Homo sapiens: one gene and its partners. The protein of the gene in region 3 purifies or fractionates together with the protein of the main gene of each other region. This does not show direct contact. Each region holds a gene or a part of one and is shown on either strand. Other genes may lie near its edges. The genes, in order: TF, SERPINB5 and CCDC82.

What was found.
Region 1: the proteins of CCDC82 (region 3) and TF purify together in Homo sapiens (affinity purification with mass spectrometry; 2 studies listed by BioGRID and IntAct, with this or other methods). This does not show direct contact.
Region 2: the proteins of CCDC82 (region 3) and SERPINB5 purify together in Homo sapiens (affinity purification with mass spectrometry; 2 studies listed by BioGRID and IntAct, with this or other methods). This does not show direct contact.

The regions. Positions count from the first base shown.
Region 1 is NC_000003.12:133,759,811-133,763,468, forward strand, and holds part of TF (serotransferrin isoform 1 precursor), read left to right. Parts: intron 1-3,658. UniProt on the Homo sapiens protein: Transferrins are iron binding transport proteins which can bind two Fe(3+) ions in association with the binding of an anion, usually bicarbonate.
Region 2 is NC_000018.10:63,486,880-63,490,537, reverse strand, and holds part of SERPINB5 (serpin B5), read right to left. Parts: intron 3,593-3,658; coding exon 3,455-3,592; intron 1,192-3,454; coding exon 1,074-1,191; intron 1-1,073. UniProt on the Homo sapiens protein: Tumor suppressor. It blocks the growth, invasion, and metastatic properties of mammary tumors.
Region 3 is NC_000011.10:96,355,470-96,358,947, forward strand, and holds part of CCDC82 (coiled-coil domain-containing protein 82), read right to left. Parts: intron 3,151-3,478; coding exon of another isoform or gene 3,103-3,150; exon of another isoform or gene 1-3,102.

The DNA of each region.
Region 1 (3,658 bases), on a different chromosome or scaffold from region 3:
CTTGTCTCTAACAACATTTTTTTTTTAAGAAAGAATATTCCATGTTGGCTTACAGAGAATTTTTAAAATCCTGAATGATATAAAGAAGAAATAAAAAGTACTTATAATCATGTAATTCAGAGAAAATTCCCTTATTGGGATCATTTCATGTAGGTTGCTTGCTACCTTTTACTCACTCACAGTATCTAGTAAGCTTTTCCCATATCATAAATCATTCTTGTAAAACCTAATCTGGAGCTTCTGTGTTAGTGCACACATCGAGATGGGGGAGTATGGTTTGCCTAGAGAGAACATGAAGTGCCAAGCTCCACTCCCCCTCCTCCCCACATTTCTTGCCCTCTGTGTCTCTTCCATTTGGCTATTCTTGAGTTGGATCCTTTATAATAAATCAGCAAATATATTGAAACAAAGATGCATATTATAAAGGTACTTCCTGCCATTGTCAACAGATTTTTGCTGAAATATGTTAATTCTACTTTTTGAGCACTTATGAATAACCATGTATCTTCAGAACTATCTACCATGAAGCAAAAAGGGACCATCAAGCTCATTATTTTATATTTCATACAATTTATAGATATCACTTTATGCTATTTTAACATATATTCCATTTTAATTTTTGTCTGAGTCAAGACAAGAAAAACCAAACTAAGTTAAAGCAAAGCCTACAAATTCAAAACCTGAGTCTATACAAATCTGTTAGCAGTTTGAGTGGCTGGGCTTCAATATTATACTCTGGATGTGATACAATAGATAAAGTTTTTTACGTCTGTAAAAAAAAGGAAGAGCAAAAGACTCTTGGGAACATGTGAAATCTTAAATGAAGATTAAGTACAACCAAATGTAAACATATTTTAAAAGGTTCTTCTTGGACATCATAATTTGCTCTCCTATGAAGATGTCATCGTTTGAGCCTTTAATGTTGGAAATAGCTTACAGATGTTGGGGCAGAAACCAAAGACCAACATTGCCATGTTCTGTGAGACCACGTCCAAGTGGATGATTGCTGGATAGGTATGTTTCATGCATAACATTTAGTTCATAAAATTATATGCTACTTTAGGAGGTCCAGGGCCCATGGATTAATGAAACAAAAGTAACTAATCTCATTGCTAGTAAAGAATTATTGGAAACAAAGTTGAAAGACATAGTTTATTTGGTCCCACACCTGTGACACATCATCACTGTCAATGGGAAGCCACTGACCTGTCCCAATTTCCCAAGGTTGTTATCATGGACATCATGGCTGCAGTAGAAAGTGAAGGTGAGTGTGGAAAACAGATCCCAAAGTGACCAGTGCCCTCGGTTATTGCAGTAATCATGTTCATGAGTAGACACACAGGACTTCCAAAGGGAGTCATCATCTCGCATAGAAACATCATTACTGGTATTACTGGGATGGCAGAAAGGATTCCCAGACTGGAGGAGGAAGATGACTACATTGGATATTTACCTGTGGCCCATGTTCTAGAATTAAGCTTTGAGCTTCTTTGTTTTTCTCATGGATGCCTGCTTGGCTCCTCTTCACCCCAGACTTCAGTGGATCAGTCTTTAAAAGTAAAAAATGGGCTGCCCACTGTGGCATGCAGCTGTAGTACCAGCTACTCAGGAGGCTAAGGTAGGAGGATTGCTTGAGCCCAGGAGTTTGAGTCCAGCCTGGGAAACATAGTGAGACACCATCTCAAAAAAATAAAAAATAAAAAAATAAAAACCAGAAGCAAAGGGTGTACTTCTGGGTTGAGACCAACACTGATGGCAGCTGTTCTGGAAATCATGGATCAGATCTACCAAAATGTCATGAATTAAGTGTATGAAATCAGTAGTCTTCAACACAATCTGTTTATTCTGGCTTATAATTATAAAATGGAACACATTTCAAAAGAGCATAGTACTGGATTGTGTGACAGCTTTGTTTTCTGGAAACTGTGAAGCTAGCTAGGTGGAAATATTCAGCTTTTATTGTATGAAAGTGCTCCACTTTCTGCAACACGCAGCAAGTTCATGAATACAGACTCACTGAACCTACAGGGGCTGGAACAATTACAGATGTGTGGATTACAAGACTGGCAGAAGTGAGAGTCCCATTAGTTTGCTGTGAAATTAAATTAAAGAACTGGGAGGAAGGTGGATACTTTAATACTGAAAAACCACATCCCAGAGGTAGAATTCTTATCGGTGGCTAAAATGTGACAATGGGATGCTACAGAAATGAAGCAGAAACAAAAGCTGATTTATTTGAAGATGGAAATGGACAGAAGTGATTATGTCCTAGAGATGCTGAAGAGTTTGATGGTTGTTTACAGATGATCGATCATAAAAAGGACCTTGTAAAACTACAGGCAGGAGACTATGTTTCCCTTGGGAAAGTAGAGCCAACTCTGAAGAATCTCCCAGTAATAGATGACGTTTGTGCATTTGCAAACAGTTAATTGTTCTTATGTCATTGGATTTGTTGTGCCAAATCAAAAGGAACTAACAGAACTAACTTGAAAGAAAGGACTTACAGGAACTTGAGAGTAGCTCTCTAACAGTTGTGAAACAGAAGATGAGGTGCAGTAGTCCCCCTTTATGTGAGGTTTCGCTTTCTTGGGTTATACCTACAGTCAACCGTGGTCCAAAAATGTTAAGATATTTTGAGAGAGAGAGAGAGCACATTAACATAACTTTTATTATAGTATGTTATAATTGTTTTATTATTGTTGTTGTTAATCTCTTACTGTGCCTAATTTATAAACTTTATCATAGGCTTGTATGTATAGGAAATAAACATTGTATAGGGTTTCAGGTTCCAAGACTGGGGGTCTTGGAACATATCCCTTGAGGATAAGAGGGGACTACCATACGTAAAGTACTTTCTGAAGCTGCTATTTGGGCGTGTCTGAAAAAGTTTGAAAATCTATTAAAAATTGGTTTGAGCCCTGACCCATGAATCCTGAAACTGGTCTGGTGACAGGTGCCTTCAAGCTAAAACACAAAGAATTTAATACACATTACCAGGCAGACTCTGAGCGAATGTGTGGAAGAAATGATTTTTCTCTTTTGGCATCAGTTTGCTACAGTGAGCTCAAATCAAATAGGAAATTATTTGAAATGCATGTTTCAAACTGTGAGGCAAACTCCATTCTTCATATTCAACCTAGATTTTTACTTCTTAAGACATCACCATTTTCAACAGACAGGATTAGTAAAATAGTAGGAGAGCAAACTTGTGTCTGTCTTTTTCCTTTTCCCCTCCTACAACTACCTTTACCTAACCTGTGACTGTATTGTCAGTATAAGGAGTTTTCTGAATCATAGTGAGGAAGCAGATTTCTAAAACCTCAAGTTTCTAAACATGACCTATATATTCAGTTTATGTTTAAAGTTTGGATGTGTAGAGGGAGTTATGGAAAATATATAAAGTGGCTGTTGGGGGGTGCTTTTTAACTTACAGTATTAAAAAAATGCAAGGCTATTGATGTGAAATTACATACATTTCAAATGCTTATGAATCAAATCATTATTGAGGATAATATTTGCTGATGTGTAATTACTATCTTGCATGAATTAAGAGAAATAAATATAGCCATACTTACGTTTTAAAGAAAAAAATGATATTTTAAGACTGATATCTATTCCATAGCATGGATGTGCTTCCACTTATTTAGCTATTTCTCTG
Region 2 (3,658 bases), on a different chromosome or scaffold from region 3:
TGCCTAGGCTTCATTCTTTCATGACTAGATTCGGCCCGGCCTCCCAACGGGTCCCTCCAGATGCAATTATAAATATATCCACTGGGGAGGGGGACAAAGTCACTGATTTGCCCTCAAAATCATCATAACCCTAATTCTTTTCCAGCAAGGAAGACGACTCACCGGCAATTTTAAGGGAGGGACGAGGAGTCCGACGAGGGAGACGCCTGGGGGAAGCACTGAGCCGGAGAAAGAACCTAGGAGCTTCTTGGACCCCGGGGCTATCAGAGGAACGACCAGCATGGGGAGCTGCGGCACCGAGGACAAGCTGACACTACGGTTTTGTTTGGTTTGGTTTTCTTTTTTTAAGACAGAGTCTCACTCTGTCGCCCAGGCTGGAGTGCAGTGGCGCGATCTCTGCTCACTGCAAGCTCCGCCTCCCGGGTTCACGCCATTCTCCTGTCTCAGCCTCCCGAGTAGCTGGGACTACAGGCGCCCGCCACCACGCCCGGCTAATTTTTTGTATTTTTAGTAGAGACAGGGTTTCACCGTGTTAGCCAGGATGGTCTCGATCTCCTGACCTCGTGATCCGCCCGCCTTGGCCTCCCAAAGTGCTGGGATTACAGGCGTGAGCCACCGCGTCCAGCCGGTTTTTCTTTTACATATGTTGCCTATGTCCCTTTTTCCTTAACAAATTTGTAAAATTTGTCAGCTGAAAGGGGCCTCGGGGATCATGAAGTTATAATCCAGTCCCTCTATTTCCAGACTGAAAAATGGCCTCATGATTGGCCCAAAGTCATACTTTGTTAGAGGCGCAGCTAGGATTCCACTAGGGCCTGTGACAGCTCGTCAGAGAGCAAGACAAAGTAAACTAACACTGAAGCATCAACAGTTTCTACCAAGTGATGAGATGATACAAGAATTGCCCAGAAATCCAAGTTGTTTACAGGCTTGAAGGGAAAGAATTTAGCTTGTGTAGTAAAAATATCCAGAGAATCCTCCAGATGTTTTTTTTATCCTTGGAGCAAACATTTATGAGATGGAAGGCCCTGTTTACTTGGTGATTGATAGCAGAACAATTAAAGGGTACTTGCCATCTGTGAGATCCTTAATTGAGTTGTTGATCTGACCTTTCGTTTCTTCCAATTTATCTTTGAAGTCAACAGTTTCCAATTCCTTTGCATACGGTCTCTTCGTAGAGCTGATGAACTCCTGAAAAACATGCAGTTCATAAAATCAGAGTCTGTAGTCAAGCTATTGCATTGTTATTCTCTTCTAACAAAAGGATTATTAAATATCAACTGCTATATGTACACTTTCAAAATTGGTAACACTATATGAATTGAAACCTCATGTAGAAGTCAGTGAATTTCTTTGTATTGAATGTTTCATTTTTTTCAATTATAAGACAATTTCAATTATTAAATGCATCTATCAATTTAATATCAGCTTTGGGGAAAACACTATGTTAAATATGCCCAATTCTCTTATGGGTTGTAATTTCAGAAACATGAAAATTTTGTATGTCTACAGATACATATATATTAGAATATAGGAAATGTATAGAAAACAGAATTATGAGCAGAAAACTCTTGTCTTTGCTGAACTAAATATCCTGTAGACCCTTGCTACTCAAACTGTGGTCCAAGGTGGTGTACAGCATCACCTGAGACCTTGTTAGAAATAAAGAATCTCAGACCCCACCCCAGACATACTGAATCAGAATGCATTTTAACAAAATTTCCAGGTGTGCCATCTGCAAATTAAGGTTGGAAACACAATGCAGGAGAGAACATAACAGGAGTTCTTATTCTAATGCTTATTTAAAATGTGCAACCCTAAACCCCATTCCCACCTTGACAATCAGAACTACCTGGGTTTAATCAGAACTACCTGGGTTCAATCAGAACTACCTGGGTGTTAAAAGGGCCTGAAGAACTTGCCCTTTTAACACCCAGATAGTTCTTATGCAAGAGATCCTCCACAGAGCACACTTGTTTGGACCTTTAACTAGTAAATTTGCAGATGCTGTGCACCTAGCAGGAGCAATGGAAAGCAGTCTTTTAAAAAATCTTTTGTAATGAGCCGAGATCATGCCGCTGCACCCCAGCCTGGGCAACAGAGAAAGACTCCATCTCCAAGGAAAAAAACAAAACAAAACTTTACAACTCCTAGTCTGGTTAAGATCATTCCAGATGTTGCATGGAAGTTCAGTGAAACTAAATATAACTTGATTCAGTGTCATGTCAGTTCACTTCCAAGCACAGGGCTTCTTGAATTTCTTCAGAGCAGCTTCAGCCTTAGCCAATTAACTTAGCTTCAGTTAATTGCAAATCAACCTTGGGACTCACTGTCACCATTGACTGACAGAACCAATCTCACCTGAAAACATTAGAAAGCCTCAGCCAGATGAAGGAGGGCCTCCATTGTCCTCACTGCCAGCAATAAAAATGTGTTAATTGTCTCTTTAATGATCATTTAGGGAGCTTCTAGAAATGTTGTATGCTCAGGCTTCAACTCACATCTCAGTTTTTTTTTTTAAATTCTTCAGATGATTGTTGGAAGAAAAATGGTTGTGTGTATGTATCTTTAAGCAACAAAAAATATACTCACAATATCTAGTAACCCATGTCCTCAAAAGATCTTAACCACAAAAATACCTACTGCAGAAAGTTGCAAAATCATGGTAAAATATTTAAAAGCTGGTAGTCTAGCTTTTCGATTTGGAAACCTTGAAATTCTGACCATCCAAACAGGAACTAAATCAACTCTGTGTTACTGAAGTACAGAGGGAAACTTCATGTAGTCTAGAATATTGTCTGTGTGTTTCAAATACAGATTTTTAAATATTACAACAATGGGTACCGTAGTGGTGTTTGTATGATTCCTTAGAGCAATGGCTAAACTTATATAACCAGAGCTGCCTGTGGAGATCCCCATCTGACCAGCCCAGCCAACAAAACTAATTTGTGACTGATGAAAATTGTGAATTCATAGTTATTATTTTTCTTACTGATTTTGAGAAACATCAGAAGAATGTGTGCATAAAAAATGAGGTGGAGAGCTTAAAACATTGTCCCAGGCCATATGCCCTGCTCTTTAAGGAGAAAGAAGTTTAAATCATTAGCTGTCTTACACTCTGTAAGACAGCTCATTGTCTATGGAGCTACATTTATTAGAGAGTTAATTACTCTGTTCTCCATTCTCTCAGAGGAAGGTAAAAGAAAGGGTAAGATTTATTTGAGAGAGAAAAGGAAAGCCCATAAGCTTCTCTGTATTTTGAGTTAGAAGATGTGACTGCAATTGATTCCCACTATACTCAACCTCTCCACTAGGATTTATTTATTTAAAGCCTCAAATCACAAGTGAACATCCTAGAAAGGAATTTCACTGAAAAAAAGTTGTAGGTCTAACAGCATGAAAATGCCACTCCTTGTAAAAAGTTAAGTCTTGCTACTTGCTTTAAACAACTTACTGTAGAAAGATTCAGAGATTTGTCTACGTAGAGCCGCTTGATTAGTTTCAGTGAGTAAAAGGAACTAAGTTTGTTTACATCCGATGTTACTGTTTGAAATCCAAAGGGTACATCTTTGACATTTTCAAAATGAAGAACCTGTTAAGAGAAAAATCCGTTACCCAAAAAGCATTGCCTCTGAGTAGTGCTGTACTGAAGTGGACA
Region 3 (3,478 bases):
AATGCTTAAAACGTATTACATATCTAATCTCCACAATCAAAACCCTAATTATTATTACTGTTTTTGTTCCTACTTTACAGATGAGAAAACTTAGGCTAAGAGAAATAAAATAGCTTGCTCCCAAATTCTACTGCTAGTAAGTGGCAAAGCAAATACTTAAGCTTATACTTTTAACCAGTTTAGAGTATGCTGTTTCTGAGATTTAAATGGTGTGGCTAGGATGCAGCTTTGGCAAGAAAAAAAAAACTTGGAAAGTGAAACTCACAGACATTGCAGTTAGTATTACTCTGCCATCCTCTCTACCTAAAGATACTGCTCTCATAATTCTTTACTAAACATTTGGAGGGTTTTAATAGTGAAGACTACTTATTTTAATAGTGAAGACTACTCTCTTACAACACCTGATGGACCTACTGATGAAAACAGTTGGAATTGTGGAAATGAAGTGTGGGAAAGAGGTCAGAATATAAGAGAAGTTTGGAATCTTCTACTCAGAAGTAGTAGCTACAACTGCAGAAGGGAATTGATTCGCCAAGGCAACTTTGAGAGGATGAGGACAGAATTCAGTGTTAACGGGTACTTTTTAGCAGTGATCCTCAAACTTTTATCTATTTAAGAATCATCAATGCTAAAAATATTGGATGTTTAACATCCACAAGGATTGTCATTCAATAAATCTGGGATGAGGCTAGGGGATTATACACTTTTCAAAAACTTCTAGGTGATTCTGATATAGGTAGTTTAGGGCCATGCTTTGAGAAACATCAGTTTAAGGGGTGGGGAAAAAAGGGGCAAGGGAAAAAGTTGAAAAGGAGGGGAAAAAGAAGAGAAGCGTTTAAGGAAGGCAAGGGATATCTAATTATAATTTTAAATTATTATGTATATGACAATATTTATCAGTGCATTTAAAATTTACATACAACTGTCACTTGTAACAGTTTTACACACAGTATTTACAGTATGAATGGGCATCTGATACTTCTATTGACATGCTTTCTTTACTACCTGGTGTTTATGCATCCACCAGCCAATCCCAACAATACTATCTTCAACTTCCCAGGAAGTCCCATCATCATATACACTTTCTTCTTAATGAACAAATATTCGTTAGAATTTTGCCAGTGTCATATTAGAGTATGTTATTGAACTCTTCTTTAGAATAAGACATGCATTATTATGTTTATTAAATATTTTGGTTTTATTATAATTTTCCTATTATCTATTCTTTTCTTATACTCAAGTTGCTCCTACACCCCTTTAGTATCATTACATTAAAAACGGATCACCCTAGTTCAACCTTTAGAAGGAAGAACAAAAAGAATGAAGTCAGTCTAGTTGGCATGTCTTTGGGAAGACATGCTGAGACATCCTGAGATAATTAAAGTAAAATGGCTGAAGAAGCAGGTAAGGGAAAAAGTAAGGTGTGGAATACAAGCTGGAGGCAGAAAGACAGGAACAAATAGTACGTGTAAGGCAACAAAAGGGGTTGACATAAATGGGAAATATGAGCGGAAAGTGCCATGGAGACGGCATTCAAGTAACACTGAGCCCCAGGCATTCTAAAGGGTTAGAGTAACTGTGACTACCAGACTGTAGCTAAAGGCAGCACACATCACAAAGTACATGCAGTGCTATCACTCAAAGGCACACAGTGAGAGGGACAGACAGAGTGAGGATGGGAAATGTCAGAGCACGTGACAAATTTTGAAATTTCATTACAGCACAAAAAGCTGCAAATGGGTTTATATTGGCTATAAACCTCTGTGGTTTCTAGGAAATCTTTTGAGAAAACCTAGGAACAAATTTTTTAAGTGGAGAAATCTCAAAAAAATGAAGGTCTTTGGTATTTTCATGGGGAAAAAAATGTGTATACTGTCCTAGACATGCACAATCTTGAAATACCTTCAATGCCTAATGCTAAATGTTATTCTTTATGTATAACATGACACTTGGCTTTCTTGAAAAGAAAGCCTAAGCTCCTTTCTTTTCCTAAGAAAAGAATGCCAAGTGTTATGCATAAAGAATAACGTCTTTAAAATTCCAGGTCCCTTCTGGTGTCCTAAACCTTGTTAAGCTTTTTCTAGGATACATGATTTGGAAATGCTTTTTTCTTCAAGAAGTTTAAAGTTCTTCCCCATATATGATACTATTATATAACATATACAGTATATGCACAGTGATTTTTCTATACCTAGTATCTAATTCTTTATAACTGTGCTATCCCAATAGGTTTTGCAGTTCCACTAGAGGGTTGGCAACACTTAAAGGCATCAATAAAAGCACTTAAGAATTTAATGTTGTCTAGGAAAATGAAGACGGGAAGTTATTGAATAAGTGCTCTCTCCTAAAGCAAATGAAAAAGTACGGATAAGCAGGGAGAAGCATTTGGAGTAGGAGAAGTAGAAGCAAAGTAAAAGACAAAAAGCTGAAAAGAATAAAATGAGAGAAAGACTTAAGGATCAAGATGTGGGGGGCAGGCAAGATCACTGGGTGGTGGTTTGTGGTGGGAGAAAAATTGTCAAAGGGAAACCAGTGATGATGTCATTATCTAGACTGGGAGACCTCCACTAAATATGACATGTGCTAAAAAAGTTTCTGTTTTGTTTTCTTTCCATCTGCCTAAGCTCTCTTGCCTTATTTTTTATATTCCTCTTTTACAAATTTCCCTATGATATAGTCCAGGCAATGGATCTCAAGTTAGGCTTTTTTCTTTTCTTTAAAAGATTAAATGTTGATAAGAGTTGCCTGAAAATCTACTATTTGTTCTCTCTTATACATTCATGTAACTAGACTTGTTTTAGAAGACTGCAGTCGTATTAGCATTCTTTCCATATACCATAAACAATTCTAAAAGCTCTGTGAGCAGACCAGAGCTTGTAAGCTGCCAGCAGATCTTCGGGAATCCAGTGCACTCTTCAAAACCCCCACTTTACTCCTGTTATCAAATTTAGTGATCAATAGGATATGGGGGAATCAAAATCAGTGCTGTGGTCTGAAACCTCTGCATTCCCCTCGATCTTCAGTTACAGTGCTCACTGCTCAGTCCCATGTCCTCAAGAAGAGGATGTGGGTGTATTAGAACTGGCAGCCGAGATCCTTTCCTCAGACTGGCACCAGGTGCTTCTTCACTCTCAGGTCACAAGAACTGTTCTAAAGAATAGGAAGCAGACAAGCAGAGGTGAGTCCTATACTCTGTCAAAAAAAAAAAAAAAAATCAGGGGACTTAATATATATGTAAGCAATACATACATAAAAGCGAAAGGACAGAGGTCCTTCAATAAAGGACAGTGTTAATGCTTATTAAAATTTATCTGATGGGCTGAGTGAATCCTTAGAACATCAGGGCATCTATTCAGAAGGACAATGATAAGCATGAAAGGAATGAGCGGAAGAAGAGAAAATACAAACGACAGAAGAAAGAGATTCTCTTAAATTTCACTATCTTTTAATCATTTGTTTCCTTTTGCTGATCATAATT